Homo sapiens: one gene and its partners. The protein of the gene in region 2 purifies or fractionates together with the protein of the main gene of each other region. This does not show direct contact. Each region holds a gene or a part of one and is shown on either strand. Other genes may lie near its edges.

Region 1 (4,423 bases), on a different chromosome or scaffold from region 2:
TATTTATCTTATTGGGAAAACTGAGTCCCTCAGGCACAAACCCTTTGAGCCTTCAATGCCCCCAACACTTATAAGCAAATGTTCTCATTTCCACCATCCAGTCGTAGAGGAGGAGTTCCTTTAGTTCAAAGCCAGTCTCTCTACCCTCTTGATCCATCTCACCTTCTTAAACCTCTTCCAGCTTTCAAGACCTTGCTCTATTTCTTTCCTCTCTTCTGTTTCCAAGTGGCTCTTCCCTGTTGGCTCTTTCTTCACAATCTGTAAGCATACTTAGGTCTTGCCAGTCCTTAAAAACCAAAAACTACCCTCTTAACTCTATTTTTCTGTGACTATGCCTAAGCTTTTATTTTCTTTCATAGCTGGTCTTACAAAAAGGAGTTTAACTTGTCTTTATTGCCCCCTCTCCAGACAAGGTTTTTTATCACTTTATCTCTAATTCTTTTTTTTTCTTTTGAGGCAGTCTGTTTTTGTCACCCAGGCTGGAGTACAGTGGTGCAGTCTTGGCTCACTGCAACCTGTGCCTCCTGGGTTCAAGCGATCCTCCCACCTTAGCCTCCCAAATAGCTGGGACTACCTGCGTATGCCACCACGCCTGGCTAATTTTTGTATTTTTTGTAGAGACAGGGTTTCACCATGCTGCCCAGGCTGGTCTCGAATTCCTGAGCTCAAGTGATCTGCCTGCCTTGGCCTTTCAAGTGCTAGGATTACAGGCATCGGCCAGGCCACCATGCCCGGCTTCTAATTCTTTTTTTTTTTTTTTTTTTTTATTACAGCAAATGATTTTATTTGTAATTTCTACCCCACTCAGTGCCTCCTCCCAAAAAACCTGCACATGAATTTACAAACCTATTAACGTATAAATAATGAGAAACATCCTGGCCAGAGTCTCCCGGTTGTCTTTGCTGGAGATTAAGACTGGAGGGGACGCTATCTTCATACACACTTCCAGTGACATCGAGAGTCACTTGGTGGCTGTTCTGGGCCCACAGCTGGCTTTTTCAACACCTCCAAGTTCAACCACCAGTCTGTCTGCTGTGTCCAAGGTAGAGCCCAGGGACTGCGAGCATGTGCAGCTCCATTGCCCGTCATTGCTCCAGCTGAGGTCATGCTGGAAGGGGTGCTTCCTCTCCTGACAGTGCTTCATGGTGGCCAGCCCGCTCCTGCTGGCACTCAGAGCCTCAGTACTGGGCCACCTGGCAGCACCCACAGATTTTGAACTCCTGGAGCTACTTCTCAATCACTGTGCAGGAAGGGTAATGCTGCTATAGTAGGTGTAAGAATTCAACTCTTCCACCACGTCTCCATTGGTGTTACAGTACCAGGTCACAGTTAGGACAGGTCACTGCTCTTCTTTGGGGTCCATGGGAAGCTGCTGAATTGCAAACCAGTACAAGCTTTGCTACCTCTTCTGGAGGTCTCTTTGGCTTTGGGCCACCAGCCCCACAGCACCAGCTACAGGTTGTCCAGGCAATTGTCTCAGTCAGGGCATTGAGACGTACCGCCTGGAACCCAGGGGTCATGCCTCTTCTGTGCTCCCACAGCAACTCATGAAGGAGTCTTCCCAATCCTCTTCCTCAGTGCTTGTCAAAAGCATACCTGAATATCTTAGTACCATTTCTATCTGCATCTACTTCCATTTGGACCTCAGAGGAGTATCCCTCCACCAGCAGGATATCTTTGCTCATCTGTCAGCGTATTTGGTCTTTATCTGACTGCATACTGCCTATACTACTCTCTCCTACCAGAAGCTACAGCCACTGGTGACAGGAACAGAGCTCTCATGAGGGTAAAGTCCCTGGCTAGTACAGCTACACAGGTAGCTCCCTCGCAGCCAATGAGCTGAGCCATGTGATGTCCAATTTGAAGTCAGTCACAGCCAGGCCTATGCTCTCAGCCAGCAGTGCCACTCCCATGGGAGACAGGGGTGCTGGGGCAAGGCCAGGGCTAGGGTCAGGCCAGGCAGGCCCCAGGTAGGACAAGACCAGGCCCGGCTCACCTTGTTCATGCCAGACCTCCCAGGCACTGACCTCTAATTCTTAAGAAAGTGCCTAGTACAGACCAGCCTGGCCAATATGGTGAAACCCCGTCTCTACTGAAAATAAAAAAAATTAGCTGGGTACAGTGGCAGGCACCTGTAATCACAGCTACTTGGGAGACTGAGGCAGGAGAATCACTTGAACCCGGGAGGCAGAGGTTGCAGAGAAGCAGGATCACACCACTGTTCTCCAGCCTGGGCAACAGGATGAGAGAGACCCCCATCTCAAAAAAAGAAAGAAAGAAAGTGCCTGGCACATATTGTGTGTTTGATGAATGAATGAATCTTTACCATGCGTAGGATTCCAGTTAAATATTATTATTTATCTTTTGTTTTTGAGACAGAGTCTGGCTCTGTCGCCCAGGCTGGAGTGCAGTGACGTGATCTTGGCTCACTACAACCTCCACCTCCTGGGTTCAAGTGATTCTCCTGCCTCAGCCTCCTGAGTAGCTGGGATTACAGGTGCGTGCCACCACGCCCAACTAATTTTTGTATTTTAGTACAGACGGTTTCACCATGTTGGCGAGGCTGGTCTCAAACTCCTGACCTCATGTGATCCGCCCACCTCAGCCTCCCAAAGTGCTGGGATTACAGGCGAGAGCCACCACGCCCGGCCTATTATTAATCTTTTACAGAGAAAAATGAGGTTAGGTTGCTGTCAAGGTCACAAAGATCTTTAACACACATGCTGTAATTGTTTACAAACACTGAGATAATACAGAGACACTAACTGCAGGAATTTGCAAACACTGAGATATTACAGAGACAGTAACTGCAGGAAGCAACTGTCACCCCTGCAGCTGAGAAGAACAACAAAAGAGCTTGGGATTACTACATTGAGAAGCTTGGAAAAGGGACTACATGGAACTGGGGCTTAGACTTCTGAGGAGAGGACATAATGAGGCTGATTCTAGTGATGTGGAAAAGCTACATTAGAACCAACTTCCGCCCTCCAGTCTTCCATTAGTGACCCTTATAGGCACAGGTTAGCAGACAGCCAGCTGGCAAATAAGAAATGTAGCTGGCAGGGTCTCAGCCCCATATTATGAAGCTAAGTATAGAAGAGTGGATTTGAAACTGAGAGAAAATAGACCAATAATGAGCACGCCATTCATTAGACGATGACTTTCAAATCTATGTTTTAGCTAAAATTCATTATAAGATTTCGTGTAATCATGCCTGTAATAAATGAAATAGGGAGGTAAAGAAGTCTCGGATGACTCTAAGTGTCAAGACCTGATAAAAATTAGAGGTGTACTTTTACCACTTCCAATTCTAAAGTTTGCTTTGGGATAACAGTTGTTGTGGAATATTTATTTCTCTTGAGAATACCCAGAAAGCCAGACACATTTGCATAGGGGTAGATGTCTAATGTTCATCAAAACCTACCTGTTCATTAACTTGAAGCATGACCAAAAAAATATGGGGAGTAAATAACAAAATAGTGAGTATAAAGATGTCAAAATTATTTGAATAACTGATGGAGAATTTCCCCCTCTTCTTTTTTTCCCACCCATCTTTTGTATAGGGTTTATTTTTATCCCAAACCCCTTCCTCCCAGGTTACCAGTGGCACTGGGTGAAACAGTGCCTTAAGTTATATTCCCAGAAACCTAATGTATGTAACCTGGACAAACACATGTCTAAAGAAGAGACCCAAGATCTGTGGGAACAGAGCAAAGAGTTCCTGAGGTAAGTCTTGTCAATCAGAATGAAGTGTTAATACTCAGCTCAGATCATCACAGGTCTTTGAAGGAACTGTTCTATAACAATGCAGTAAAAGTGACTGGCTGGGTTTTTTTTTCCCTTCATTGTTTCCAAGCAAAAACAGCACAATTGTATTCTTTCCCCAGGAACATTTGGACAGATGCTTTGACAGTTATAGTAAATTGAGATCCATTTTAAAGACTTGCTTATCATAGCTTAGATAATTGAGTTCATCCTCATTAATCATCACATGATCCATTTCCATTAGCTTCAGCCATTTTTTTCTACTTAAAGTGAGTTCCTTTGAAGGCTTTTGGTATCCTAGGAAAGGTAACATCGAAAGCTCTTTGCTTCTACCCTCCTAGATGGATTCAGTGGTACTAGCCGTTTTATGATAGGTCAGTTGTTCCTGATGAGAATAACTAATATTTTCACCTTCATGCTTCAACATTCATTCATTCATTCCACAAATACTTAATGAGGGTCAGTAGTGTGTCAGGCATGATGCTAGGCGTTGGACACAGAAAGATAAAGGCACCCTCCCTGCACTCAGTAGTGCATAGTCTCTGGCAAGAATGCATTACCTATGAGAATAATTACTGTAGAGCTCAGAAAGTGTTATGATGCGGTTTAGAAAAATACTGTGGGAGCATAGAGGAGGAAATAATTATTCCAGGCAGGG
Region 2 (4,423 bases):
TACCTTTGTATGTGACTGCACGCACTTGGGCATAGTGTTCTGAGAAGGGGTCCTGGGCTTGTACCCCTCGGGGGCCGAGGGGTCTTGACACAAATGAAGTTAAGGCCCCTTGGTCTGTGGGGCTTTGGAGCATGGACTGAACGCATGACACCTGCACACATGTGGCTCTCTAAGGCAGACTGTCCTTTGCCAATAAACCACTGTTTAGAGCCAAATAGCCAAGAAGCACAACCAAATTTCATCCCATTCCCATCCCCAATCTTTCTGAAATGGCCACACATTCTGATGACGCCAAGTCCTCAAACCTTGCTGGGCGATGCTGCCTGGATTTTGAGGCAGGCTGGTCACCCCTTGGGCAACCCTGGAGAGAGGCGCCCACAGAGACACACACTCATGTCCTGTGAGAAGAGCCAGACAGACCTGTCTACTGACCACTGTGGTCTCCCAGGCCCCGAGCGTGGACTCCAGCTCCCCCTTCAGCAAAGCCGACAGTGTGCCCTTTGGGGATGTGGAGGGAAAGCGAGCTGGGAGCTGAGCCCAGACCAGCTCCGGTAGGAGTCAGAAGAATGTGCCCTGCTGCCAGTCTGAGGGTCAAAGTGCGAGAGCTACCCGGGTCACCTCCCTCTTCTGGGAAAAGCCAGCCTGGGAATGCTGTTGTTTGGGCGACAGAGCCACCCTGTTGGCAAGCAGCTTGTGCTCTGGAATTCAGCACCTGAAGGGCAACATTCCTCCCTTCCGCACGCCTACCAGGGGTCAGCTTCAGACTGAGAAGTCAATCCGTTTCCAGTCAAGCTGGACTGGACCCCAGCAGGCAGAAATCAGACAGTGTCCCCGGAATCCACAGTCATTCTCCCACTACAGAAGATGATGATCAAAAGCCTTTAAAACCCAATACAGCAGGCATTAGCTTCAAAAAGAACAGGCTAGGGCAGGAGGATTGCTTGAGGCCAGGAGTTGGAGCCCAGCTTGGGCAGCATAGCAAGGCTCCTATCTCTACAAATACACACACACACACACACACACACACACACACACACACACACATACACTTTAATTAGCCAGGCATGGTGACGCATGCCTGTAGTCCCAGCTACTCGGGAGGCTGAGGAGGGAAGACTGCTTGAGCCAAGGAGTTCGAGGCTGCAATAAGCTATGATCATGCCACTGCACTCCAGCCTGAGCAACAGTGAGACCCCATATCTAAAATAAATTTAAAATGGTAATAATAAAGGAAAGAAAAAGGCCGGAGACTCATGCCTGGAATCCCAGCACTTTGGGACGCCGGGGTGGGCGGATCACCTGAGTTCGGGAGTTCGAGACCAGCCTGACCAACGCAGAGAAAACCCATCTCTACTAAAAATACAAAATTAGCCAGGCATGGTGGCATGTGCCTATAATCCCAGCTACTTGGGAGGCTGAGGCAGGAGAACTGCTTGAACCTGGGAGGCGGAGGTTGCGGTGAGCTGAGATAGCGCCACTGCACTCCAGCCTGGGCAAGAGTGAAACTCCATCTCAAAAAAAAAAAAAACAAAAAACAGAAAAGAAAGAAAAATGCTTCTTCGTCATTACCACAGTACTAAGACTTTTGTTTCAGGGACACTAATCCCATAGATAACAGTCCAGGCATCATGAGGTTTTTACATGAGCTAAAAACGTCATCAGCTTCTACCCACCAGATTTCACAAGAGTGTGACTATGGGAATGCGGAGTCAGGGGCACTCCAGCTACCCTGGAAGAATGGTTTTCAAGTCTCTGTTACATAGTTCACTAGGGCCAAAGGGAGAACCGTGTTGATGCCTATGCCTAAAATAGTTTTCCATTCCAGATAAAAATGCCTGATTTGCCTTTAAAAAACTAAAAAAGGAAATAATAATATAAAAGGAAAGATCTTAGTAATGAAAGGAAACAGGAACTGAAGAATCACAAATGCTAGCCAGAAAAAAGTAAGAATTGTTGCTTGAACCCTATAATCTGTTATCTACCCATTAATGAATGCAAACCAATTAAATGCAGTTGCCCCAGCTAAAGAATTTACAAGCAAGCAGTTTTCATATTTGAAATTCTAAAATACTGCTTTGGAGATAATGTATAGCTTTTAGGATTGCTAATGGAAGAGTCAGGCTGCTCTCAATGAGCGCATTGTCCACACCAAGAAGGGCCAGTCCCGCAGGGAACAGAAGTTCTGAATTTAATCCTAATTGAATTTGAGTAGGGGCTCTGGTATGTAAGGCATGAGAGTGAACATAAGACAATGAAAATAAAATGGTGTCACTACAACTTGACCTTTTGCACTTGGCTTTGACAGATTCACAGTGTATTTGAATCCAAGGACCCTCACGCGTTTTCTGGAAGTTTGTGAATGTGCTCTGAGCCGGGCCGTCAGCCCCCTGCTGCCAACCCCATACACATGTCAGCCCCTGTATCTCTCAGAATATTGATTTCCTGTCTACAAGTATGGGCTTAAACTGAGTACTTCAAAGTCCCTCTCCCTGGAAACAGGATCAGGCATCTCTATCTCTATTGCCTTCTCCCCCAGACCGGAGTCCGTCAGTACCAATCGTGAAGCCAAAGCACTGAGAGTTCTGGTGGTTTACCTGGACTTTCCTGGAGAAATAAACAGCCTCAGGTCCAATTCTGGGGATGCCAGAGCCCCAGGCTGCCCCAGAAACAGGGCAAAAGAGAAAAATCACAAATTGGTTCAAATTCAACCAATGCAGCCAAGGGTCAGTGAGCTGCCAACCCTGGTCTGGTGAACGGAGCCAGGCTGCCGAGCCTGTGTGGCCACTACCAACACGGGCCTGACATCATCAGGGCTGGGGGCACGGGTTCAAGCCTGAGGAAGGAGCCCAGCCTTCCGCCAGACTCTCCCGCCTTTTTGCCTGGGCTGTCTCCAGGCCAAGCAGACGGGAGGATGGGTGAGTGACCGGAGCCTGGGGCTCTAGGTTCGACTTGTCCAGGAATTATTACTCGTCTATGTAGCAAATCCGTAAGTGATCTGCTCAGCTTTATGTCACCAACACATACAGACGAAGAGGTCAATTACCCCTGGTGGTGAGGGAAACCTGAATCTGTAAGAACGCCTCCAATGTCTGATCAGCCACACTGTTGGACAAACTACTGAAATGCAGCAAAACTGACCAGGACTTTAACCGTGAGTTCAGAGCAGCCAGAAATGAAGACGCCCTGCTCACTGCAGACAGGGCCCTGGGGAGGCAGGTCCCACCACCCCACCTCTACACAGACACAGGGCCCCGGGGAGGCAGGTCCCACCACCCCACCTCTACACAGACACAGGGCCCCGGGGAGGCAGGTCCCACCCGCCCCACCTCTACGCAGACACAGGGCCCCGGGGAGGCAGGTCCCACCCGCCCCACCTCTACGCAGACACAGGGCCCCGGGGAGGCAGGTCCCACCCGCCCCACCTCTACGCAGACACAGGGCCCCGGGGAGGCAGGTCCCACCCGCCCCACCTCTACGCAGACACAGGGCCCCGGGGAGGCAGGTCCCACCCGCCCCACCTCTACGCAGACACAGGGCCCTAGGGAAGTAGGTCCCACCCGCCCCACCTCTACACAGACACAGGACCCTGGGGAAGTAGGTCCCACCCGCCCCACCTCTACACAGACACAGGACCCTGGGGAAGTAGGTCCCACCCGCCCCACCTCTACACAGACACAGGACCCTGGGGAAGTAGGTCCCACCCGCCCCACCTCTACAGACACAGGACCCTGGGGAAGTAGGTCCCACCCGCCCCACCTCTACACAGACACAGGACCCTGGGGAAGTAGGTCCCACCCGCCCCACCTCTACGCAGACACAGGGCCCTAGGGAAGTAGGTCCCACCCGCTCCACCTCTACACAGACACAGGACCCTGGGGAAGTAGGTCCCACCCACCCCACCTCTACACAGACACAGGGCCCTCAGGAGGCAGGTCCCACCAGGTTTGTTTCTCGAATTTACAGATCTAAAAACACAATTGTGTCTGTTCACCTAAAGAGCTAATTCCACTCACTTTATGAGGTTTAAGTTCTGTCTAAACAAGAGAAATGGAAGCCAGAACAGGACTTCGTAATTTATAGCAGGGAATGAGCTGTTAACTTCCACGATCCCGTCCTGTATCAAGGATAGGAAGCGCTGCATTAGCTATGGGAAGAAGCATGGCCAGCACAGTGTGAGTCCTCAGGGTTTATTATGCTCGTGCAGGCTTCCCTTTCCCATGTTTTACAGGAGGAGGAACTGAGGCACAGATGGAGAAGGAGGTGGGCAACAGACACAGGAGCGGTGGAGCCCTGAGAAGCACGCTGGCAACAGGCACCCCAGGGAGTCTGGTCTAACCACCCCCAGAGGCAGAGGAAGGGGCCTAGGGCCCCTTTGAGGTGGGCTGCTGGGCAGGAGAAAAGCCTGCCTCCACCCTGTGATCCC
Region 3 (4,423 bases), on a different chromosome or scaffold from region 2:
GCTGGGGATTGGCTATGTTCCCATCGATGTTAACTGCTCAAAGACAGATTTTCTCAGCAGCAAGATGCCAAGGAACCTGCACATGATTAAGCCACCTGAATCCCCAGAGAAGGAATCCTCAAGAACTTTCCTGATTACTACTGTTCTGGTAACTATGCAGGGGGCACAGAGATAGCCTGACATATAACCAGGATGAAAATGAGTCACACTGGAATTTTAGCAACAACAACAAAAAAAACTAAGGGATCCCTGGCTATGTTCTGCCTAAGCAACTTCCAGCCCTGTGCTGACCATCGTCTTGGATGTGGAGAAGCTGCCCAAGGCCAGAGCTTCCATTTTTCCTCTAGAGGAGTCAGTGGTTCACTGAATTCTCTTTCTTCCTGTTGGACTTGAACTGTACATGAAAACAGGTTATTTGGGAAATGAACTTAATACTTCCTTAACCCACTTCTCCAAGTGCAAACCACCAAGACTCCTTCAGAAATTACATGTGCTGGCTGACAGCAATGAGAAGCACCCTGCCCTGAAACCCAGGGATATATTCCCACGGGGACCATCACACGAACTCTAAACCTTGAGCCTGAACTTGTCTTAGCAATAGGGGAAACCACAATGGCTCTAACAATGAGGTGCCCACAACGGTTATCACATACCTTCAGCATAAACTCATGCACCGGCCTGCCGATCCTTTCCTCGGCCTCCACGCTGTACTCTCGTGCCAGGGGCACAGTGGGGTGGTAGAGGCGCCAGTGTTTCTCTCCCTCCAGCTGCAGGATGAAAACCTAGAGACCCACAAGGCCCAGGAGCATCAGAGAGCTTCCTGACAACTCACACACAAAGTGCTTCCGGACTATTAGCCCTCTAAGGGGCTAATAGACAAATATATAGGTGAACCTTGAACAACACAGGTTTTTTTTTTTTTTTTTTTTTTTTAGTTGTTATAGACAGTCTCATTCTCCTGGCCAGGCTGGAGTGCAGTGTCACAATTACAGCTCACTGCAGCCTCTCAAACTCCTGGGCTCCAATGATCCTCTTGCCCTAGCTTCCTGTGTAGTTGGGAAGCTGGCATGCACCACAGCTCCCAGCTAATTTATCTTCTTTGTAGAGATGGGGTGTCACTTTGTTGCCCAGAATGGTCTTGAACTCCTGGCTTTAAGCACTCCTCTCACCTGGGCCTCCAAAAGTGATTACAGGCGTGAGCCACCACGCCTGGCCTAACAGCATGGGGATGAACCGTGCAGGTCCGCTTATATGCTGATTTTTTTCAATAAATTATATTGGAAAATTTGGAGGAGATTTGCAACAATTTGAAAAACATGAAAAATATCAAAAGAATTAAGAATGTCATAAATGCATCAAATATAAAAACATATGTAGATACTAGTCTATCATCTACTACCATAAAATATTCACAAATCTATTACAGAAGGTTAAAATTTATCAAAACTTACCTATACAAATACTTCTAGACCACCATTTGCAGTCAAGAAATGTAAACAAACTTAAAGATGCAATATGGAATAGCTGAATAAAATTAACTTTAGTACATATTGTACTACTGTAATAATTTTGTGCTACCTCCTGTTGCTATTGCCACGAGCTCAAGTGTGATGCTAATTATCTCCACATGAGCAGTTCCTCTCTCCAGTGAATTGTGTATCACAGTAAAAAATGATCTCTCAACAGTTCTTGTGTATTTTTCATCATGTTTAGTGCAACAACTTAAGCCGTGAATAACACCATGGGACCCATATGATGTGCCACTACTGCTACTGCAAGTACTCCCGAGAAACAGAAAAAAGTCGTAACGTTACAAGAAAAAGTTGAATTGCTTGATGTGTATTGTAGATTAAGGCCTGCAGCTGTGGCTACCCACCATTTCAGATGGACGATTCAGCTTGTAAACAAATGATGTAAACTTACGGTACTGATAAACACAATATTAAAAATACTTTTCCCTTTCTTATAATTTTAATAACTTTTCTCCAGGTTCCTTTACTGAAGAATAAAGTATATAACACATATAACATACAAAATAAGTGTTAACCAATTTATGCTATCAGTAAGATATCTAGGCAATGGAAGGCTACTAGTAGTTAAGTTTTAGGGAAGTCAAAAGTTACAAGCAGATTTTTGACTGCATGAGGTGTTGGCACCACTAACCCCCACACTGCACAAGGGTCAAGTTTCCGATAAAAAATAAAAATGAAAGATGAGAAATGCATGTCATTCCACAGTTAAACAAAAGTTGCCACTACTGGGTTTTATTTTTAAAAACGGAATCGTGAATCCTGACACTGGATATTCATTCTTTTCACTTTCTTAGAGCCTCGCTGAGTTCTTTATATCCCACTATCTCATTCCTTTAAATCTTCTATCAGACAGCTAAAAGCCCATAATCTCTGATGGAAAAGCCAAGCTTCAGATATTACTGAATGTCTAAATCCTGAATGTTGAAAGGGCCTGGGGAGATAGGAAAACTTCGAGTTTTTTATTCTTTATTCAGTCAAAGATATTCTATTAAAAATATTAAAAATAACATTTTGTGAAAATGTATTGATGTCAAATTGCTATCAAAGGAGAAAAAGGGGACTTTTTACCAATAACTCTGTGTTTACACCTTATATTAGGACAAAAATAAAACTATGGAATACATAAGCCAAAGAGTTAAATTTTTTTGGAAGCCATATCAGAGTGAAATCAACACTTGTCAAGATGCCAATGCTTAAGTGAAACCATGACCCTCATTCAAGCTGCCCCAAGATTTTCACAAATGGAAAATATATACATATTTTTGGCAGCTACTGAAAAAGAACAAAATGAAAGCACATGAAGGATTATTTGTGACCTCATCTTATTAAAGACCATACTTTGTGAAATTAAAGGAAAAGCCAAGCACACCTTTCTGTAGATAAATTCAATAAATACTTGTTTCAGACGAATGTGTGGCTCTTTAAATTAGTAAGGTTGGAAACAAGCTGTTCCTTTGAGACAGAGCAGGAAACCAGTTTAGTGGGATTTACTTTGGCCCAACATTTTGATGAAATCAATATCTCAGAAACTGCACAGAAAGAGCGAATACAGACCTAAGAGCCTTAGAGAATAATGTGAACTCACCCTGACAACTCTACTAAACCAGGCTCTCAACAACTCATTCTTCCCAACATGGGGCAATTTTCTCCATCTCTTACCTCGACATCATCATAATGGGGCGGCAGGCCCTGAGATCCTGCGGGAGTTATGTACACATTCGAGCCAACCAAGGAGCCAAAGTAACATTCCAGCTTCTCCTGGATCCTCCAAAGCTCATCCTTTACAAAAAAGGAAAAAAGAAAGGGTCGGCGTGGGGGAGTGAAAAATGTATTAGAAATAAGAATAAGAGCATGTTCTTGTTCACTTAGGAAGTCTTTACTGCACAACTATTATACACCAGATACTGGGAATTATGCAATGATACAGCCAATACCCATGGTCTCAAAAATCTTCCATTCCAGTGCAGAAACACCATGTAACAGACGTGAACAGATAAAGGGATGACTGACAAGGTGGGCAATTGGGAGTCCGGAAGGCTTTTAAGCAGGGAAGGACACAATCCAATTTACATTTTTGAAAGCTCACCCTGGTTATTGTGTGAAGAATGCACTGTAGAAAAGAGTGGAAGTCAGAGAGACTAGTGAGGAAGCTTCTCAGGCAGCAGCTCAAGCGAGAAGTGACTGGGGTGGTAAGAAAGGCAAGGAGGGAGGTAGAAGAGTGGGATGCACTCTAGAAGCAGCACAGACAGGACTTGCCGACAGACTCAATGTAAAGGAGCGGAGTTAAAAAAAATACTCTTGGGTTTTTGACTTGGGCAATCAGTTCCCCTTTCCACGTAACGAGATGGGAAAAACTTACTAAAAAACAAGTTTTCAGGACAAAAAAAAGAGTTTTATATTAGGAATGTTAAGTTTGGAATGCTAAGACCCCCCCCCCCCCCCCCACATGGAGATGTCTTTAAGTCGGTCTGAAGTTCTGGCAGAAACTAAGGACTGAAGATTTACACTTGGGAATTGCCTACACAAAATGGATATTTAAAGCAATGGGAACAGAAATGATAACACGGGAAGAAGGTACAGACAGAGAAGAAATAACAGGCTGGGTAATGTTCCTTCTCTCCACTATCAACTCTTCAGAGCAGACATCAGACTTAGGGGCCTAGCGATGGGCCATATATTCCCAGGAGAGAGAAGGAAGTCTGATTTTACCAAGGCTGGTGAGAAGAGAGGAGGGGGGCAATTAGGCCATGTAGATATTAGCACTTCCTATGTGCCAGGCACTGTCTCCAAGTGCTTTACAAATATCAATTATGCAACCCTCACAATAACCCTGCCTCATAAAGAGGGTACTAACATTATCTTCAGTTTACAGATGAGGAAACTGAGGCATG
Region 4 (5,056 bases), on a different chromosome or scaffold from region 2:
GAACACATGAGAACCAGAGCCAAAAGAAAAAGAGAAGCAAAGGTAATGTTAGTAATTAGCCCCAATATATTCCCAATATTACCAGCCTACATTATTTTACACAAACATATTTTTCCTACTGTTTTAAGAGAAAGGGGTGGGGGGAAACAACAAAAGAGAAGGGGGTCTCATTCTTGCCCAGGCTGGAATGCAGTGGCTATTAACAGGTGCAATCATAGCACACACTACACCCCTGAACCTCTGGGCTCAAGCAATCTCCCACGTAGCTAGGTCTACAAGCATACCAAACATCACACCTGCCTAATTTTAAGTCAGACCACTGACAGAAGCCATTTCTTCCTTTCAAACTATCCTCCCAAAAGATGAGGAAACCATTCCCTAAGAGAAGTCTTTTAAGAAATACCTCTTGTTTTAAGCCATCCAAAAAGCAAATACAGTAAGCATGTTTCATTTTGAAAGAAAAATAGAAAGCTGCCTACAAAATCAATTTGTATCAAGAAGTCATTTTTCCAGTAATTTCTTCAAGTTTACTTCTTGAACTTTGAAAGATAAGCTTTCCTTCCCACTGGATGCCAGAGGAAGTGACTGAATGCTCAAGCTGGCCATTCATAGGCACTCCAACCCTCTCAGGGCTCCAGGGCCAGGCATGGAAAGTACAACTGCAGTCCAGGGAGGCCTGCAGCAGCTAACGCCTTCTTCAGATTTTCTCCTTATCGAGTCAATTTTGGAATTTCCTTAGTTTGAGAATTTCAAACAAAGGGCCTTGAATTTGCAAGAGGCAAGCACTCTCATCTCTTAGTTTTTGAGGACTCAATTAAATACGAAAAAAAAACCTTCTTAAAAATGGTAATTACCTTCAAACTTCTTTGAAAATTTAGATTAAATGACACAACCAAAAAAGAATTCAAGGGAAAATTATCCCTGTAAAGAGTACTGTAGGTTACACAGAATTACAAAGATCTCACACATTACTTTAAAAATACATGGTCAGGGAAAGGTTTAAAATCATCAAGATTGTACTTCCTTTTCATGGAAATAAACCATACACAGAAGTTATTACATTAATAAGTTGGCTGAATCACTAAATCAAAGTACAGGTCAAATAAAACCCTAGAAAAAAGTAAAAGCTCAAAATAGCTATCAATAAGTAAACTTTTCAGCAGCAAACTTTCATTTTACCATAAAAGAGAAGCAACTGAGGAGAGACACATATTGAACTTGCTTCACGTGCCTCCTTTGCCTTGACTATAAGCCTCGTGTTTCCAGTAGAGAGCTAAGGAGCAGAATGGCACTAGAGGAGTGCGTTTTCACTAGAGAAGCACTGCCTCTAATACTCCCCTCTGGGGTGACTCCATGACTTTCAGTAGCTCAATTTCCTCAACAACTGAAACAGCTGTTTTAGAAAATAAGCCAACTCATCTACAGGCCTTAAGTTATACAACTGCAGAGAGAAGAGGTGCCAAGTTCAGGAAGCCCAACAGAGACCAAATCAGAGCCAGACGCTGGGGAACTCCAGGTTTAATATGCCTTCCACTACTCACTTCCACACTCCAAGAAATGTCTCCAACCTTTCTGAGAGTTCTTTATGGCTCAGAATTTCTCCTTAAGATTTAAAGACCCAATTACTTCAAGGAGCAGCCACCAAGATTCCAGGCCAGCTTTAACCCAGAAGTCCTCCTCTAGAGCTGCAGTAAGATGTATGAATGCTACTGGGAAACTGTAGAGCACTTCCAAAACATCAGACATTTTCTAAAGAACAGAAAGCTACACTTAATTCACATTATTGAAAAGCTGCCAAACCACTGATTTTTAGACTTTATTAGTCAAGTCAACGCTATGGTAAACTATATTTCAATAAAGCCACTAAAAAAATACAGAGTTTCCAAATTCCTAACAGTTAAAAAGGATAAAGGGCGGAGACTAAGCTCAGATCTGTTTCAATCTCTCCATATTAAAATGAATGACTGCTGGTACAGACAGCAGAGACTAAACAATTATTTGTGGTGCAATCACTGCATCTTAAAACCCTCAAGAGGAAACAGCCTGAGAGGGTAGTCTCCAAAATGAGAAACTTCACTTTGAGACAATCAAAAGAACAAAACGAAGTCACAGTGCTACTCCCACCGCTGCTCTTTCAATTATAATTTACTAACATCAAGTGATTAAAATCTGCAGCCAGAAAAGATCATAATGTAGGACAACAAAGTAGGAACTGATCCCAAAACGCTAGACAGTATTCTCCCAATATAAGTGCTGCCTTTTCGTACAGTGTATTCTAGCTCCAATGGGACTTGTAAATCACTTATAAGGAAAAGAAGCCCCTTCCCCCACCAACCCAAGCCATCCTAATAGCTGGGCGTGTTTTACAGCAAATATGAAGCACTCAGGAGCGGTCCGAGGCCGACGCTTGCGGGGCCATCCTCCCCCACCCGCCCGTCACCAGGGCGAGCAGAGGCCTTTGGGGTTCCATGGCCCCCGACCGCCACGCGGCAGGACTCCGACCCCGCAGCCCAGGAGGCCCGCGCACCTCTGGGAGCAGCCGCATCTGGCAGAGACTCAGGGCTGCGCAGGCCTTCCCCAAGGAGACAGAGGCTTCTCCCCGCCCAGGGAGCCCAGTACCTCATGCTGTAAGCGCCGGCGCCCAGTTCCTGCCCGATGCCCGAGAGGCTGGCGTCGAAGTCGTGCACCAGCCCGGACTCGATCACCTCGTCCATCTTGAGCACCCAGGCCATCTTCCGGCCTCGCCGTCGCCCCGCACACCGCGGCCTCCGCGTCCAGGGCGAAGGAGCCGGAGCTCCGCTGGCGCGTCCTGGGGGAGGGCGCGGGTGAAGCCTCCGGAGGGGCGGCGAGTGGTCACCAGCGGCGGCCGGGACGAGAGCTGCGGGGGCCCCACTGGCAGGGCACGACGAGCCCAGCGAGCAATTGCAGCGGGAGCGGCCGGGCCGCCGGCAGCGCCACCCTCCCGCGGACACCGGCCCTGCGCCTCATGCCGGCGCCGCCGCCCAGCCCCCGCGCCGCTAGCGCTGCAGCCGCCGCCGACCGCCCCGCCCGGGGCCCCCCGGTCGCATCCTCCTCCGGGACCGCTGGGAGGCTGGACCTCGGGCCGCTCCGAGGACCACACGGGGGCAAGCCCTCCGCCCGCCCGTCACCCGCCCCCAAGCCTTGACTCCTTGCCCCCGGCCCGCCCAGGCTCTAGCGCCACACCGCCCCGGCCAACCCCGCCGACGCCGCTCTGCCGGCCGGACGCTGGCTTCAACGCGACTCCGACTTAGGTTCACGCGCCGCTTCCGCCTCCCCCGGCCCCGCCCCGACCCCGCCCCGGCGTTCGCCCCACGCCTCGGCCCTCCCCGTACAGCCCCGCGCTTAGGGCCACTCCCCGCGCCTCGCGGCCCAGGAACTGTCCAGAGAGTGCAATGCGGCCCCGCCCACGCGGCTGTTCCCAGCCGGGGTGGCCTCGCTGCGTCCCCGCACAGCAGCCCAGGAAGAGGCGGTGCCAAAAGGGCTGCCAGTTTCCGCCCCTTCTAGCGAGCGAGATGATTGACAGGCCAACTGAGCAATACCTGCAAGGGCTTGGACGAAGCTCCCGTGAGTCTCTGTGTCCCCCGACTAAACAACCAATCAAAATGTTCTTCACCTTGGGCGGGCTCGAAGACGGAATTTGTTGCCAAAAGAAAGAGTTCATTGGACTGCATGGTAGAAAGCGACCCAAAACGCCACTTCCGGAGGTGATTTGCTCCTCTGTGGTATTTCCCGGTCGTCTCTGCTTTATGCCCTCTCTACCGAGGGAGTGAGCGGTTTGCACCCCATCTGGTGACAGAAAAGCCAGTTGTGCAGAAAACCTTGATTGGCGTGAGAATAAGCCAATCAACGCTCCTGAGAAAGAGCTCTGGAAAGACTTCCCCTATTGGTTGCATTGCCGAGAGCAGCTTGGCTATCCTGAGTTGAACTAGCTGTTGGTCATCCTAAGGGCAGGCGGTCTCCTGAAGTTGGACCGAACCATTAGGACGTGCCACAGTAACAGCTACGCTGCTCAGAAGGCCCGAAGGGTCTTCCTCAGCGACCTAGCGTGGGCACGCGCCACTGCGGCCAAAAGACAGAAATCTTTTTACCGGAAGAGATGAAATAGAAAGCAGGAGCCAGAGGCTGACTTACAGAGCCAGTGTGCGGATCAGAGTTCCTTAGGAGCGGCTGCTGGCGCTTGACGGGCGGAATCCTTGCTGAAGAGAACGTCAAGGCCCGGGCTTCGCCCTGCATCGAACTTACTGCCTAAGAATAAGACCCAAATGCTGAGCGCCCCGCCCCAACTTGCCAGTTTAAGTGCAAAAATACATAGATTAAAATGTCAGCCTAATAAAGCAGTGGCACTGAGCCAGAAAAAAATAGTCTCAACGCCTGTGTGATTTAGATACTAACTTACAGGCTCACGCCTGTAATCCCAGCACTTCGGGAGGCCGAGGCGGGTGAATTAGTTGAGGTCAGGAGACCATCCCGGCCAACATGGTGAAACCCCGTCTCTACCAAAAATAACAAAAATTAGCTGGATGTGGTGGCGCGCCCATGTAATCCCAGCTACTCAGGAGGCTGAGGCGGGAGTAAGGCTTGAACCCGGGAGAAGACAGAGCAACACTCGGTCTCCAAAAAAAAAAACCACAAATTAACTTGGAGAATGTTTTTCTCTTTACACAACATTTTTGCAAACATTTCATTTGATAAAGCCATACTTTAGAGATGAGGTAATTCAGGTGAAAATGTGTAAAGATTACACAGTGCAAGGTCACACAGTAAGCAGGTAAACCGGGGCTATTTGACTAATCCAGATTTCTCTGATTCCAGGCGAAAACATTAGATTGGCCATCAGTTCAGGAAGCTCCATTCCACTATTACAAATAAATCTGCACAAACAATTGGATAGTCAAGGGAAACATTGGTCTCATTGGGGGTCTCAGATATGTCTTCATTCCATGATCTCACCTCACTTGCATAACCTAGTCTATAACCAGATTAGCCAGGCCTACTATTAGTTGTTGGAAAATTTGGAGAAATGGAATTGGGGGAA
Region 5 (4,320 bases), on a different chromosome or scaffold from region 2:
GGCCATGGTGCCAGCTTTGGGGTGAGACTCCAGGGAGCAGCAAGGACCCAGGGGTTGGAAAGGGAGGTGGCGCCTAGAGCGGGCAGCCTGGGGGCCGGGCTGGGCCCTGGGGGCAAAGCCAGGGCCACAGGACCCAGAAGGACGGGGCTCCAAAGACCAGTGCGGCCCACAGCCGGCCTTACTGTCCTGGGCCCCAGCTGCCCAGTCCCCATCAGGTGGGCTTCAGAGGCCTCAGGGCTTGGTGAGGGGCTAAGAGGCTGAATTCTCGTCAAGCTCAGGCCTTCCCCTCATTCCCTGAACCTTGCAGCTCTCATCTGGGGGCAGTTGTGTCCCCAGGTGGCATCTGGCAACATCTGAAGACATTTTTGGCTGCCACGGCTGGGCAGGGGGTGCTGTTGGCATTGAGTAGGTAGAGACCAGTGGTTCTGTTTAACATCCCATAATGCACAGGACAGTCCCACATGTCACCAGTACCACAGTCGCTGAAACTCTCATCTCTAGGGATCCGTGGGAATAGAGGGGGTGATGGGGCTGGACACCCTGGCAGACAGGCCACAGTCCTTAGTCCACCAGGGAGGGGCCGGCTGCTGACCTGCACCCCACACTCGCCCGTCCAGGTGAGCTGCTCCCCGGTGTCTGCCCAGCTCCTGTCGGTGCTGCAGGGCCTCCTGCACCTGGAGCCCACCCTCCGCTCCAGCCAGCTGCTCTGGGAGGCCCTGGAGAGCCTCGTGAACCGGGCCGTGCTCCTGGCCAGCGATGGTGAGGGGGCGGGGCAGGGGCGTAGGCACAGCCTGGTGGGCAGACACTGAGGTCTTAGACCATGGGGGGGGGAGCCTGCCCTTGGCCCCAACCCATCCTCTGCCCAGGGGAGGTGGCCGCTTTTTCCTGCCTCTTCCTCAAGCCCCCATCCCTCCCTCTCCGGCTCCCTTCTCCCTTGACCCTGGACATCCCCTACTGCAGCCCAGGAATGCACCCTGGAGGAAGTGGTTGAGCGGCTCCTGTCTGTCAAGGGGCGACCCAGACCGAGCCCCCTGGTCAAGGCCCATAAAAGCGTCCAGGCCAACCTAGACCAGAGCCAGAGGGGCAGCTCCCCGCAAAACACTACAACCCCCAAGCCCAGCGTGGAGGGCCAGCAGCCAGCAGCAGCTGCTGCCTGCGAGCCCGTGGACCACGCCCAGAGTGAGAGCATCCTGAAAGTTTCGCAGCCCAGAGCCCTGGAGCAGCAGGCGTCCACCCCACCCCCACCCCCACCCCCACCCCTGCTCCCTGGTTCCAGTGCCGAGCCCCCTCCCCCTCCCCCACCACCCCCCCTGCCCAGTGTGGGGGCTAAGGCCCTCCCAACAGCACCCCCGCCCCCACCCCTGCCAGGCCTGGGGGCCATGGCCCCCCCAGCACCTCCTCTACCACCACCCCTGCCAGGCTCCTGTGAGTTCCTGCCCCCACCACCTCCACCACTCCCGGGCTTGGGATGCCCGCCCCCACCCCCACCCCTGCTGCCTGGTATGGGCTGGGGCCCTCCTCCACCCCCACCTCCACTACTGCCCTGCACCTGCAGCCCCCCCGTGGCGGGAGGCATGGAGGAGGTCATCGTGGCCCAGGTGGACCATGGCTTGGGCTCAGCATGGGTCCCCAGCCATCGGCGGGTGAACCCACCCACACTGCGCATGAAGAAGCTGAACTGGCAGAAGCTGCCATCCAACGTGGCACGTGGTGAGGGTCCCCAGACCCCCAAGGGAAGCTTCCCCTAGGACGGGGGCTGGTCTCTGCTGGGGAGAGGGGCAGGTGGCACATGGAACTTGTGTGCGCGTCCTGCCCGTGCGTGGCCAGGGCAGCCTGGCCCTTGCTCTGGGCTCGGCGCCTGTGGTTGAGGTGGGGACGGGGGAGGAGCAGGGCAGGGGCTACCTCTGAGGACCCCCCTCCACATGCTCCCGTGAGCCAGTGCATCTGGGGTGCCATGGTGCCCTGGGGCCCTGCTACAGGTGCTCAGGTAGGGAGGTAGGGTGCCTGCTGTACGCTGGACCTGGACCTACTGGGCCCCAGGCAGGACATCCTTTAGACCCTCTGGGAGGCTCCAGCCCCTGCCTGCTGGATCGCCAGGCCCCGGGGCTGCGAGAGCCTCACTGGCCGTGTCCCCACCCGACAGAGCACAACTCTATGTGGGCGTCCCTGAGCAGCCCCGACGCCGAGGCTGTGGAGCCCGACTTCTCCAGCATCGAGCGACTATTCTCCTTCCCTGCAGCCAAGCCCAAGGAGCCCACCATGGTGGCCCCCCGGGCCAGGAAGGAGCCCAAGGAGGTGGGGACGGGGAGGGGACTCAGACCGGGGCCGCCTGCCTGGCCACCCTCCGGTACCAGCCTGTTGGGTGGGGGGTTTTCTAGATCACTTTCCTCGATGCCAAGAAGAGCCTGAACCTCAACATCTTCCTGAAGCAATTTAAGTGGTGAGTGAGGGAGGTAGCCCCCATCCCAGGCCACGGAGCCTCGCCTCCACCTGAGCCTTCTGACTTGGGCCCAGCAGTGCCCTCTGCAGGCCGCCATGGGAAGTGCACACTGCATCCCCTAGGCAGGATTGTAGGCGGGTAATAGCCCCATGCTGCCCCAGCTAGGGGCTGTCCAGGCTCCCAGGGACAGAGCGCTGGGACCTCCCCCCACAAGGCCACAGACAAGTAGTGGCTAAACCAGTGGGCCCTGACTCTCAGCCCCCGAGTCCTTTCCTGCTGCGGGTGTCCAGCACTGGCCCGAGGGAGCTGGCTGGACCCGACCCATCCTGCATCTCCTGAGCAGGGCCCATGGAGGGTAGCGAGGGTGGGAGTCAGCCTGGGTCCCCTTCACCGCGTGACCGTGGGCAACAACTCGACTGTTCTGTGTCCCCCCTGCCCTGGCCACCCCATGACTACGTGGGGAAACCCTGCCAGGTGGGGTCCCAAAGAGGCTGGGTGGGGGTGACTCATGATTCACTCACCCCTGCCCGGTCCTCTCCCTGCTCCAGCTCCAACGAGGAGGTCGCTGCTATGATCCGGGCTGGAGATACCACCAAGTTTGATGTGGAGGTTCTCAAACAACTCCTTAAGCTCCTTCCCGAGAAGCACGAGGTAAGAGGACCACCCCCACACCCCACCCCCAGTTAGTGCCACCAACCAAGGGAGAGGCTGTCCCGGGGGCTCCCAGCAGGGAGACAGAGAAGGGAGGCATCCCAGCCCTACCTCTGCCCTGAACCGTGAGCCACAGGGAGCCATGATGGGCACTGGAGGGGCTGAGCCCGGCGGGCAGTCCGGGAGGGCGGGAAGCTGGCATGGGGGGATCCCACATGCCGTTCTCCTCCTGGCAGATTGAAAACCTGCGGGCATTCACAGAGGAGCGAGCCAAGCTGGCCAGCGCCGACCACTTCTACCTCCTCCTGCTGGCCATTCCCTGGTGAGCATGGCCGCCCTCAGACCCCAGGGCCTGGGCCCCAGGTGGGAGGAGAGCAGGAATAGGGAGCAGGGCCCAGCCAGGGAGGAGAAGAGGCTGTGCCAATGGCTGCCCCGGGCTCCAGGAGCAGCATTGCAGCGGTTGGGCTTCTAAACATCACTCGAGCCCCACCCCCAGTCCTTCCCCTCAAAGTGTGGGGCTGGAGGCCTCTGGAGGAATTGGATCCTGCTCTGCGCAGGCCCGGGAGGGTGCCTGTTGGATGGGGCAGGCGGTGGAAACCCCCTCCCTTTGCCCACCACCCAAGCCAGAGCCCTGTGCTGAGTGCCCCTCTGGCAGGGACAGGTGGGGGGTGCAGGCCACTGATCCCTGTCTGTGCCATCCCCAGCTACCAGCTGCGAATCGAGTGCATGCTGCTGTGTGAGGGCGCGGCCGCCGTGCTGGACATGGTGCGGCCCAAGGCCCAGCTGGTGCTGGCTGCCTGCGAAAGTGAGTGGGGCCAAGCGGGGCACGTGTGCAGGAGGGACAGGCCTCCGAACCGGGGCGGGAGGGCTGCTCGGGGCCCCTGCTACTGCCAGTATCATAATGGCTGCTAAGAGCACCTAAGGGTGCCAGCCTTCACCACCACTCCGGAAACCACCCTGCTGCCACCACCTCGGTGCACACACCTACTGGACGCACAGACACACGCATGCCCACCGCCACTCGGGCACGTGCACACACACAAGCACACTGCCACTCTCCGGCACGCGCACACACAAGCACACCGCCACTCAGGCACGTGCACACACGCATGCACACCGCCACTCGGGCACGTGCACACACACAAGCCCACAAGCACAGTCACACACATGCACACAGGACACACAGACACACGTACACACCCCCCCAACACACACACCCTCACATACAT
Region 6 (4,423 bases), on a different chromosome or scaffold from region 2:
GGAAAATGTAAGGATTTCATACTGATAGAACATTATAAACATGAAACAAGTCTATTCTGAGGCAGTCTGGGGTCACTGAGAATAATGGTAGCCATTATTGGGTACCATTATTTGAATCTCCCCACATACACTCCAAAATCAAAACAGAAGAAGAACAATAAAACTTTGAAATCTCAAATCTTAGCAAAGCAAGAAGACACACTCAAGCTTCAGATTACCTGTCTACAGAAAAAGAAACATCAAATCCCAGCAAGCCGTCTATTGCAACTCTACACACCTTTGCAGAGAGCAAGGGTGATTTATGAAAAATCATGAGAGGAGGGGAGCTAACAGTAGTTCTGAGATTGATCTAAAATCACTGCCTAAGAGAAAGTCCACCCTAAATATGAGAAATACAGGCAGTTCTCACTTTGCACAGTTCTCTTATGCACACATTCCAGTTGCCATGGTTTAGCTAAATAACACAACAAACTTCAGTAACCACAGCAGCATATTAACCATAATTGCAAAAAGTACAAAACTCCGTTGCTGGCTCTTCACTCTGCAAATCACTACATAAATAACACATGTGCATCGCGATCAGTGATCAATCATACCACCTTTTTCAAAGTCTGTTAGGAATTGGTCATTGCTCATGTTATTCAGTTCACACACAGATAGCAGACTGTGGTTGTGTTCTTTGTCTCTCAGTGATAAACCCACATGATGTTTTATTAAAAGGCATAACAGAAAGAGGGGCTTGGCCAACAAAGATGAAAGTGCAGTAAAGAAATAAAAAGCATTAACACTGGGTATGAACTTAAAATTAGAGTTATAGAAGAAACAGCTATTACGGGAATGTTGATAATATTGCTGTTTGAGACTCTAGGTATACCACCAGAAGAACTAAGTGAAGGTGAAACATCTATAAGCAAGGGAAGAGCTTGTGATAAAAAAAGAGGAAGATGTTCTAGGGAACTGCTATGGGCAAAAAAACTTCACATAAAAGGAATTCTCAGCGACTTCACAACACTGAAAACACAAAACACACAACGTTGGAAGCTGATAGAAACTTAGATTGTGGTCATTTGCCAAGACACAGAAAAAATACTCCATCTTATAATTTATATAATGAGAAGAAGGCAATATTCACAATATTTCTAATGTTTTAAATTATAGTATACCATATACTGATTTTACTATTTAAAACATCATAGTATACTATATACTGATTTTACTATTTAAAACATCATACATTTATAACTGACAGGAAGAGTTTTCAAAGTTTTGGCAAAAATTTTAAAGGTCATAAAACAATCATAATTTTTCCCATTGATGATTAAAATCACCTTGTATCATTTCAGCTTGTGTGGTTATCATTATAGTATGGCACTGTCATGCAAAATGAGGATAGCCTGTTCAGAAAGAGGCCTGGTAAACACAGCACTGGCTATATGGAAGGCACTTAAAAGAATGTGCAAGTCAAAGTGGCAGGGCTCAAAGAGTGTAAATTTTGGTGAAGAAAGTTAAAAAAGGAGGGAGAAGCCCTTTGAAAATCAGGTGATAAAGGAAAGCTCAAAAAAGCAAAATTTAGATACCTGAGAAACAAAAGAGAACCTTTTTCCTATCAGAAAAATCATAGAACAACCCCAGCTACAAAAAAAGCCACCCAGTAAAGAAAGCATACTGCATTACAATGAAGAGAACAATCTTAAACTAGGAATTCTTATCAGAAAAAATAAAAATCACTAACATACAAAGTAACTCTGAGATGAAAATACAGCAAATGAAACGCTAACACCTAAGTATATGAAAATCTGCCTCTACTCCCAAGAAATAGGCATGAATCAGAAGAAAACTGTAATGTAGCACTCCACACTCAAATACATACCCTCAAACAACCATTTGGAAATAAAAAACGAAATTAAAAGCTAAAAACAGATGAACAAACAATAGAAATAAAAAGAGAAATAGTGTTAGAAAAGAAATAGAAGAAAAAGACAAAATAAGAAATAAATTTTAAATTACAGGATGACTAAGGAAGAATAATCTCAAATGAAAATACAAGGGACACTGAAAAAAGGAGAAAACATCCAAGAGAATAAAAATGAGATAAGTCAAAAAGGTCAAAGAGAAAGTGGCTGAAAAGAAGGTCAGGCAAAAAAATAAGAACAGACACTAAAATGGAATTCCTAAAAAGAAAAAAAAGAAGGAAAAAAAAAAAAAGCAAATGCAAAATAATGGACTAGAACTAGGGGTCAGCAATGGCCCAAAGGCTAACTCTGGCCTGCAGTCTGGATTTGTATGGCCCTCGAGTTAAGAAAATGGTCAATTACACTCATAATAAAAGAAATAATAAAATGAAAAATCATGAGAGGAGGGCAGCAAAATTAAAAATATACTGAAATATCACTTTTCGACTACCAGAAAAAAAGGTAAAAACAAAAAAAGTATAACGCTTTTTATTGGTGAGGCTATGTGAAAACAGGCACTCTCTTATATTGGTAGGAAAACAAACTGGTCTATCCTTTTTGGAGAGAAAATGGGCAATCTCTAATAAAATTACATATGCATTTACCTTTTGATCAGGCAATTCCACTACCAGAAATTTACCCTGAAGATGTATCTATAACAATATAGAAATATATATGCAGGAAGTTATTAATTACAGCATTATTTGTAATTGCAAAATATATGCTCTAAATGTAGAATAGCTGAAAAAAACCATGGTACATCTGCACATCCACACAGTGGAGTAATATAATAGGAAACTATAAGAAAAAGAGAAAAATCTCTCTGAACTGATAAGGAGTAATTTTCACATTGTATTGGTGTTTTTTTTTTTCTCCCAAGCTATATTGTTAAGTGAAAAAAGCAAACAGCAAAAAAAAAAAGAATATGGTATGCTACCTTATGAAGAAAGGAAAAGCATTAAAAATATCCATATCTTCTCATCAATAAGAAATGTAAGAAAGATAAACTGAAAACTAACGAGAATAGTTACCTACAGGGTGACAGGGAACAAGATGTTAAGTATGGGAGTTAAGAAGAGGGGGGAATACAGGGAGGGTGAGGGGCAAGGAGTCACACTTCTCTGTATATATCTTTTTGTATAGTTCTGACCTTAAGAACCAAATTAGTTTTTCACATATTAAGTAAATAAATAAAGTCAACGAAGTTGTGGGCAGGAGAGAGCTAAGTGAAGGAAAAGCCTAAAATGGAATTCAAAGAGAAACAAATAACCTAATGGTACTTCAAACAGATAACATAACCATATTAAAGGGGGGAAATAAAATAAGTAACTGGAGTACTTCTTAAATATAGTACTTTGACTATATGCCCTCAGACTCAAAACAAAAAGAACCAATGTATTCTGGGTAATAGGAGCCAGGACTGCTTGTCACTATCAGAAATGGAGTCATAAATGAAAGGACGAAAGTTAAAATGAGCCCTGTGGTGTTAAGACTGAAATTTGAGGCATCACGATAGATTCATGATTTTAATATATAGACATATAAATAGATACAGAAATATAGATTCTGTGTGTCTGTAAGGGGATGCCTATGTACACATACATTTCCTATCTCTGCCCGAGAAAAGGCCTAGAAGTAATGACATCGCAATACCAATGAGCATACTTAGTACCCAGATTCTAGTTTCTAAACCCTATCCTCCAACAAGAATAACCAAGGCTCCTCAAAGAAATGACTGATTCCAGAGCTGAGGATGGAAAAGTAGAAGATAAACCTGGAATATCTTGTGCCAGAAAGCAAGGAGGTCTTCAAAGAATGAGGGTAACATGTCAAAAGGGCATAGAGCCTACTAAAAGGGGTTCCACAGGCCTAATCTAGGACAATCTGAGCATCAAAATAATGACAGTAACAGATTACAACCCACTGAATAAAATAAGAAACTGAAGTCCATAGAGATATAAATAAGTAAGTATAAGTAAATAAATAAATGCAGAGAGAAAGTTTTTTTCAAACAGTAGAATTTTAACTGATATTTATAGGAAGGATGCTAGAGCTGGAAAATCATCAATGCATACTAACAACACTATTGGATAAAAATTTGATTAGGGACTCACTGAATATTTAGTCTCCAGGTATCTCACCACAAGATATTCGGTAATTACAAAGGGAAAAACACTAACTTTACAGAGAAAACTCTGGCATATGCCACCTTAACCAAGTGAGCAGACACAGGGCAAATCAACTTGCTGCACCTCCAAATACAGTGCACTGAGAAGACAGTATTACTTCTGTACTATTCATACCAAAAATTCTTATCACCCACCCTCCTATCAAACATAAATCTCTTTTCCTCTTAAAACTCCTTTAATGGTATCTTCTTTCTGTATCCAGAGGCTTTTTAAAATTTGGGCTGTTGTGGAATCTACAAAAATATGATCCACTGTTACACACTCACTTAAATGCAACTCCAT
Region 7 (3,500 bases), on a different chromosome or scaffold from region 2:
CAAGTAAAACTCAGTTATTTACTTTGCAAATTTGAGGATTTCTTATTTATTGCGGGTGTGGGGTAGTCTTCCCCAGTTGGATTCAAGACTCCTATAATTTATGTCAAAGACTAATTCCTTCCATCCCTTCAACTATCCTTCCATCCAAACCACCCCTATTTTCATTTCTTTCACTCGCATCAAAAATCTAGCCCTCACTTGAGTTTGCCAAATGATACTAAAGACAACCTAATAAAAATGCCCTTTTAGGAACAACACACACCGGGTCCTGTTGGGGTGTGAGGGGCAGGGGGAGGGAGCCTAGATGATGGGTCAATAGGTGCAGCAAACCACCATGGCCCATGCATACCTATATAACAAACCTGCACATTCTGCACATGTATCCAGGAACTTAAAGTACAAGTTTTTTTAAAAGCCCTTTTAATTAAGTGGGTTTAGTGGGCTCTTGTTTCTCCCAGGCCAGAGCAAATAATGCCAGCACAATGGCTTTTGAGCACATTCATGTCAGGTCACCCTTGATTCTCAGAAGGTCCCTGGAGCTGATGTGCATAAAACATAGTTTGTGGACTGTGCCCAACTGCACTGGAAAAATGACACTGGAAAAGGATGCAAGACACCTTCCATTCCCATCTTACAATTATTTCTGGTTTATCTATTACCTCAAAATAACTGCTAAAAGCACTTCTTCATTCTAGGCATTAGTCTTTTTGAGGATCTGGCCCCTGCTCTGTACTCCCACAGCCTCAACCAACCCACTATCCAGACTAACAAAATTGACTGACACTGAAGGGTTTGCAGTTTCCTAAGGCCCCAAACCCACTTGCCTCAGGACATTTTCACTTGACTGCTCTGATCTGGATCTTCCCACCTTCTCTTACTCATCCTTTACTTCTTAGGGTATATCTCACCATCTTCCTTACATGACAGCTGCTCTTAGACTCTACAATTCAGTGCGTGCCCTTGGGTCTTGTTTATCCTGACATTCCCAGTACCAGCATGGCGCCTTCCCTCCAAAGAACAGATGCCCAAGTAATGTTTGAGAAATAAGTGAGCCAGTGTGCAAGAAGTCAGTTTTATTATGATGTTCCTTCTCCTACATTGTTGAATAAACTAATCATATCTAAGTATCTATCTCTTAATTTTACAGAACAGACTAAACATAACGGAATGAAAGCATTTATCATCTTTTACATTTTACCTCTATTTCTTCATCCCAACTATTTTACTGCTTTTTTAAAAAAATATTTCCAAGGAAATGGCTAATCCACTACTATGTTATCTCATTGGAGATCACTAAATAAGATGGAAATTTTCCCATTTTTTTCTATAAAATAGTAAAACTCTACTCTAAAACCTCACAAACATCAATAAATGTATGACTTACTATCACTTATAATCTTGGATTCTTAAGCTACTTTAACCTTCTATTAAAAGGAACAACGTTTAAATATCCAAGTTACCCAGAACATGTTATGTACTATGTTATAACGAGACACAGCCAACCCTCCACTAGTGAAACACTGACTGTCCTCTTCAAAAACACAGTAAAGCATTTTCCTCAGCCTTCACTTGGAGCAGGCAAGGCTGCTGGACGTGGCCTTGGAACGTGCACTGGCCATGGTGGCAGTACGGGCCCTGGCTGCAATTCTGGCTTGGGATCTCTCTTCCACATCTTTCAAAGCCTCTTCATAATGGGATGGGAAGGCACTGGGGACTGTACCATGGATCTTGGCCAAAAACTCTAGGACTTTCATCTTGCTGGTTTCAGCATAGGCTCGTGGACGCCACAGGAATTCATAGCTTGGAGGACTGCTGTTGGGCACTTCCCAATACTCCAGGTACTGCTCTTGCACTAAATCTTTGGTGAGGAGGTTCCTGGGCTCTCCATAGATGACGTGCTCCTGTCCCTCGTATACCCCCATCATATTTAGCACCTTCCAGACTTCCTCCTCAGGGGCACAATTCCCCTGGCTGAAGATCGCACTCAGGATGGTCATCAGCAGGCCATTCTTGGGCAAACTTCTGTTAGGATTCACTCTTGTGTCATGGCCTAATTCTAGTTTGTTGACAAGGACATAGATGCTCTTGTTGGGATCCACTTCTCTCACGTCAAGGCCAAAGACCAACTCCAGGTGATCAGAAGCTCTCCTCAGGATCTCAGGGAAGAGGCTCTTTTACGTCTGGATTACATTTTTCAGCATATCTGCCTTTGTAATGGGCTCTTGCATTTGACATTTGTACAGCAGGTAATGCACCAACATAGCAATCTTCTTATCTATAGGGCCTCTGGGCCACTGCCCAGTGGTAGCCTGGGCCTGTGAGGCATTTGACCTTTCCTCAACTTGGCTGTCGATGCCTTCATTAGATGCTGTGCATGAAACAGCTGCAGCAGTGGTGATGGCTAGAGCTATCCCAGGCTCTTGCTCATTGCTGGGTGTTTCGACAGCAGATGACCTCTCAGGACTATCTTTGAAATGAGGAGATGAAGTGAGGGACTCTCCTTCCTCTGCTACAGTGACTTGAGCACCTTCCACGTCCTTGGGCTCTTCTCGAGCCTGGCGGCGTTTCTCACGGGCACGGGGCTTACTTTTCTGACCCCGAGGCATTATGACTCTGCTCAGAGGTAAGTAGTAGTGTGAGACAGATGGCAGGTGATGAAGTGACCTCAAGGAAAGAAGGTGTGATCCTCCAGCAGGAAGATATCACCTTGACTTTATGGAAGTTGCTTCTGTAGGTTTCTTTGAGAACACTGTTCAAGGATCCTATGAGGCTACTCTTCTCTGAAGGGCCTTTCCCCTGAGGAATCAGTGGAAGTAACTAGACTGTACCTTTGCTGAAGCCTGCCAGTATTACCTGCATCTTACTGGGACTGATACAGTGACTGGCAGGTCCAGACTCTATGGAGCTTCCTTTTTTTCTGGGGTAGACGATGTTTCTTTCAATTCACATTCAGGGCCATCACCTTGACTTCTGGCAGGACCTGTTATCTCACTGCTGAACTGTTTTGATGCTGACTCCCTCATTCCAAAGCGCTCATATCCTTGACTCCCCAGACAAGAAATTGAGGGGGAATCTCATGTGACCACATTTGCAGGGGGACATTGTGGAATGGCAGCAATGCAGAGATCGGTGAGACCCTCTTTATCTTGAGGTAATTAGTTTTCAGTCCTCAGTCTTTACTTTTGCTTCTTGGAGGGTCTGATTGCCCTCCTTTTGCTTACCTGAAACCTATCCCCTCCAAGCAAGGCCTTCACATCCCTGACATTCCTGATAAAGATATTAGGGAGGCCTCAGATGTATCTTCCCCAGGGACCCCTATCAGGAAAGACAGCACTCTTAGGGCTCTATGAATCCTCTTTTACTTCTGGAAATTCAGGTTCCTCCTAATGACTCCTCACCTTGACAGCCTCATACCTTCCCCTCTGAGGACTTGAGGCCTATACCAATCAGAGAAAGGCCCTCTTCCACTTGATATCCCAGAGTATGCAGTTGGAGGGAGG

Evidence for each region.
Region 1: the proteins of RAB20 (region 2) and ALKBH1 purify together in Homo sapiens (affinity purification with mass spectrometry; one large-scale study listed by BioGRID and IntAct). This does not show direct contact.
Region 3: the proteins of RAB20 (region 2) and RIOX2 purify together in Homo sapiens (affinity purification with mass spectrometry; one large-scale study listed by BioGRID and IntAct). This does not show direct contact.
Region 4: the proteins of RAB20 (region 2) and UBP1 purify together in Homo sapiens (affinity purification with mass spectrometry; one large-scale study listed by BioGRID and IntAct). This does not show direct contact.
Region 5: the proteins of RAB20 (region 2) and INF2 purify together in Homo sapiens (affinity purification with mass spectrometry; one large-scale study listed by BioGRID and IntAct). This does not show direct contact.
Region 6: the proteins of RAB20 (region 2) and PGGT1B purify together in Homo sapiens (affinity purification with mass spectrometry; one large-scale study listed by BioGRID and IntAct). This does not show direct contact.
Region 7: the proteins of RAB20 (region 2) and MAGEB10 purify together in Homo sapiens (affinity purification with mass spectrometry; one large-scale study listed by BioGRID and IntAct). This does not show direct contact.

What each region holds. Positions count from the first base shown.
Region 1 is NC_000014.9:77,694,041-77,698,463, reverse strand, and holds part of ALKBH1 (nucleic acid dioxygenase ALKBH1), read left to right. Parts: intron 1-3,563; coding exon 3,564-3,726; intron 3,727-4,423. UniProt on the Homo sapiens protein: Dioxygenase that acts on nucleic acids, such as DNA and tRNA. Requires molecular oxygen, alpha-ketoglutarate and iron.
Region 2 is NC_000013.11:110,526,900-110,531,322, forward strand, and holds part of RAB20 (ras-related protein Rab-20), read right to left. Parts: intron 1-4,423. UniProt on the Homo sapiens protein: The small GTPases Rab are key regulators of intracellular membrane trafficking, from the formation of transport vesicles to their fusion with membranes.
Region 3 is NC_000003.12:97,958,398-97,962,820, forward strand, and holds part of RIOX2 (ribosomal oxygenase 2), read right to left. Parts: intron 3,312-4,423; coding exon 3,192-3,311; intron 783-3,191; coding exon 654-782; intron 1-653. UniProt on the Homo sapiens protein: Oxygenase that can act as both a histone lysine demethylase and a ribosomal histidine hydroxylase. Is involved in the demethylation of trimethylated 'Lys-9' on histone H3 (H3K9me3), leading to an increase in ribosomal RNA expression.
Region 4 is NC_000003.12:33,437,117-33,442,172, forward strand, and holds the start of UBP1 (upstream-binding protein 1), read right to left. Parts: upstream 3,290-5,056; 5' UTR 2,733-3,289; coding exon 2,620-2,732; intron 1-2,619. UniProt on the Homo sapiens protein: Functions as a transcriptional activator in a promoter context-dependent manner. Modulates the placental expression of CYP11A1. Involved in regulation of the alpha-globin gene in erythroid cells.
Region 5 is NC_000014.9:104,706,293-104,710,612, forward strand, and holds part of INF2 (inverted formin-2), read left to right. Parts: intron 1-617; coding exon 618-759; intron 760-960; coding exon 961-1,710; intron 1,711-2,143; coding exon 2,144-2,295; intron 2,296-2,378; coding exon 2,379-2,440; intron 2,441-2,988; coding exon 2,989-3,091; intron 3,092-3,327; coding exon 3,328-3,413; intron 3,414-3,795; coding exon 3,796-3,896; intron 3,897-4,320.
Region 6 is NC_000005.10:115,231,354-115,235,776, forward strand, and holds part of PGGT1B (geranylgeranyl transferase type-1 subunit beta), read right to left. Parts: intron 1-4,423. UniProt on the Homo sapiens protein: Catalyzes the transfer of a geranyl-geranyl moiety from geranyl-geranyl pyrophosphate to a cysteine at the fourth position from the C-terminus of proteins having the C-terminal sequence Cys-aliphatic-aliphatic-X.
Region 7 is NC_000023.11:27,810,990-27,814,489, reverse strand, and holds part of MAGEB10 (melanoma-associated antigen B10), read right to left. Parts: intron 1-3,500.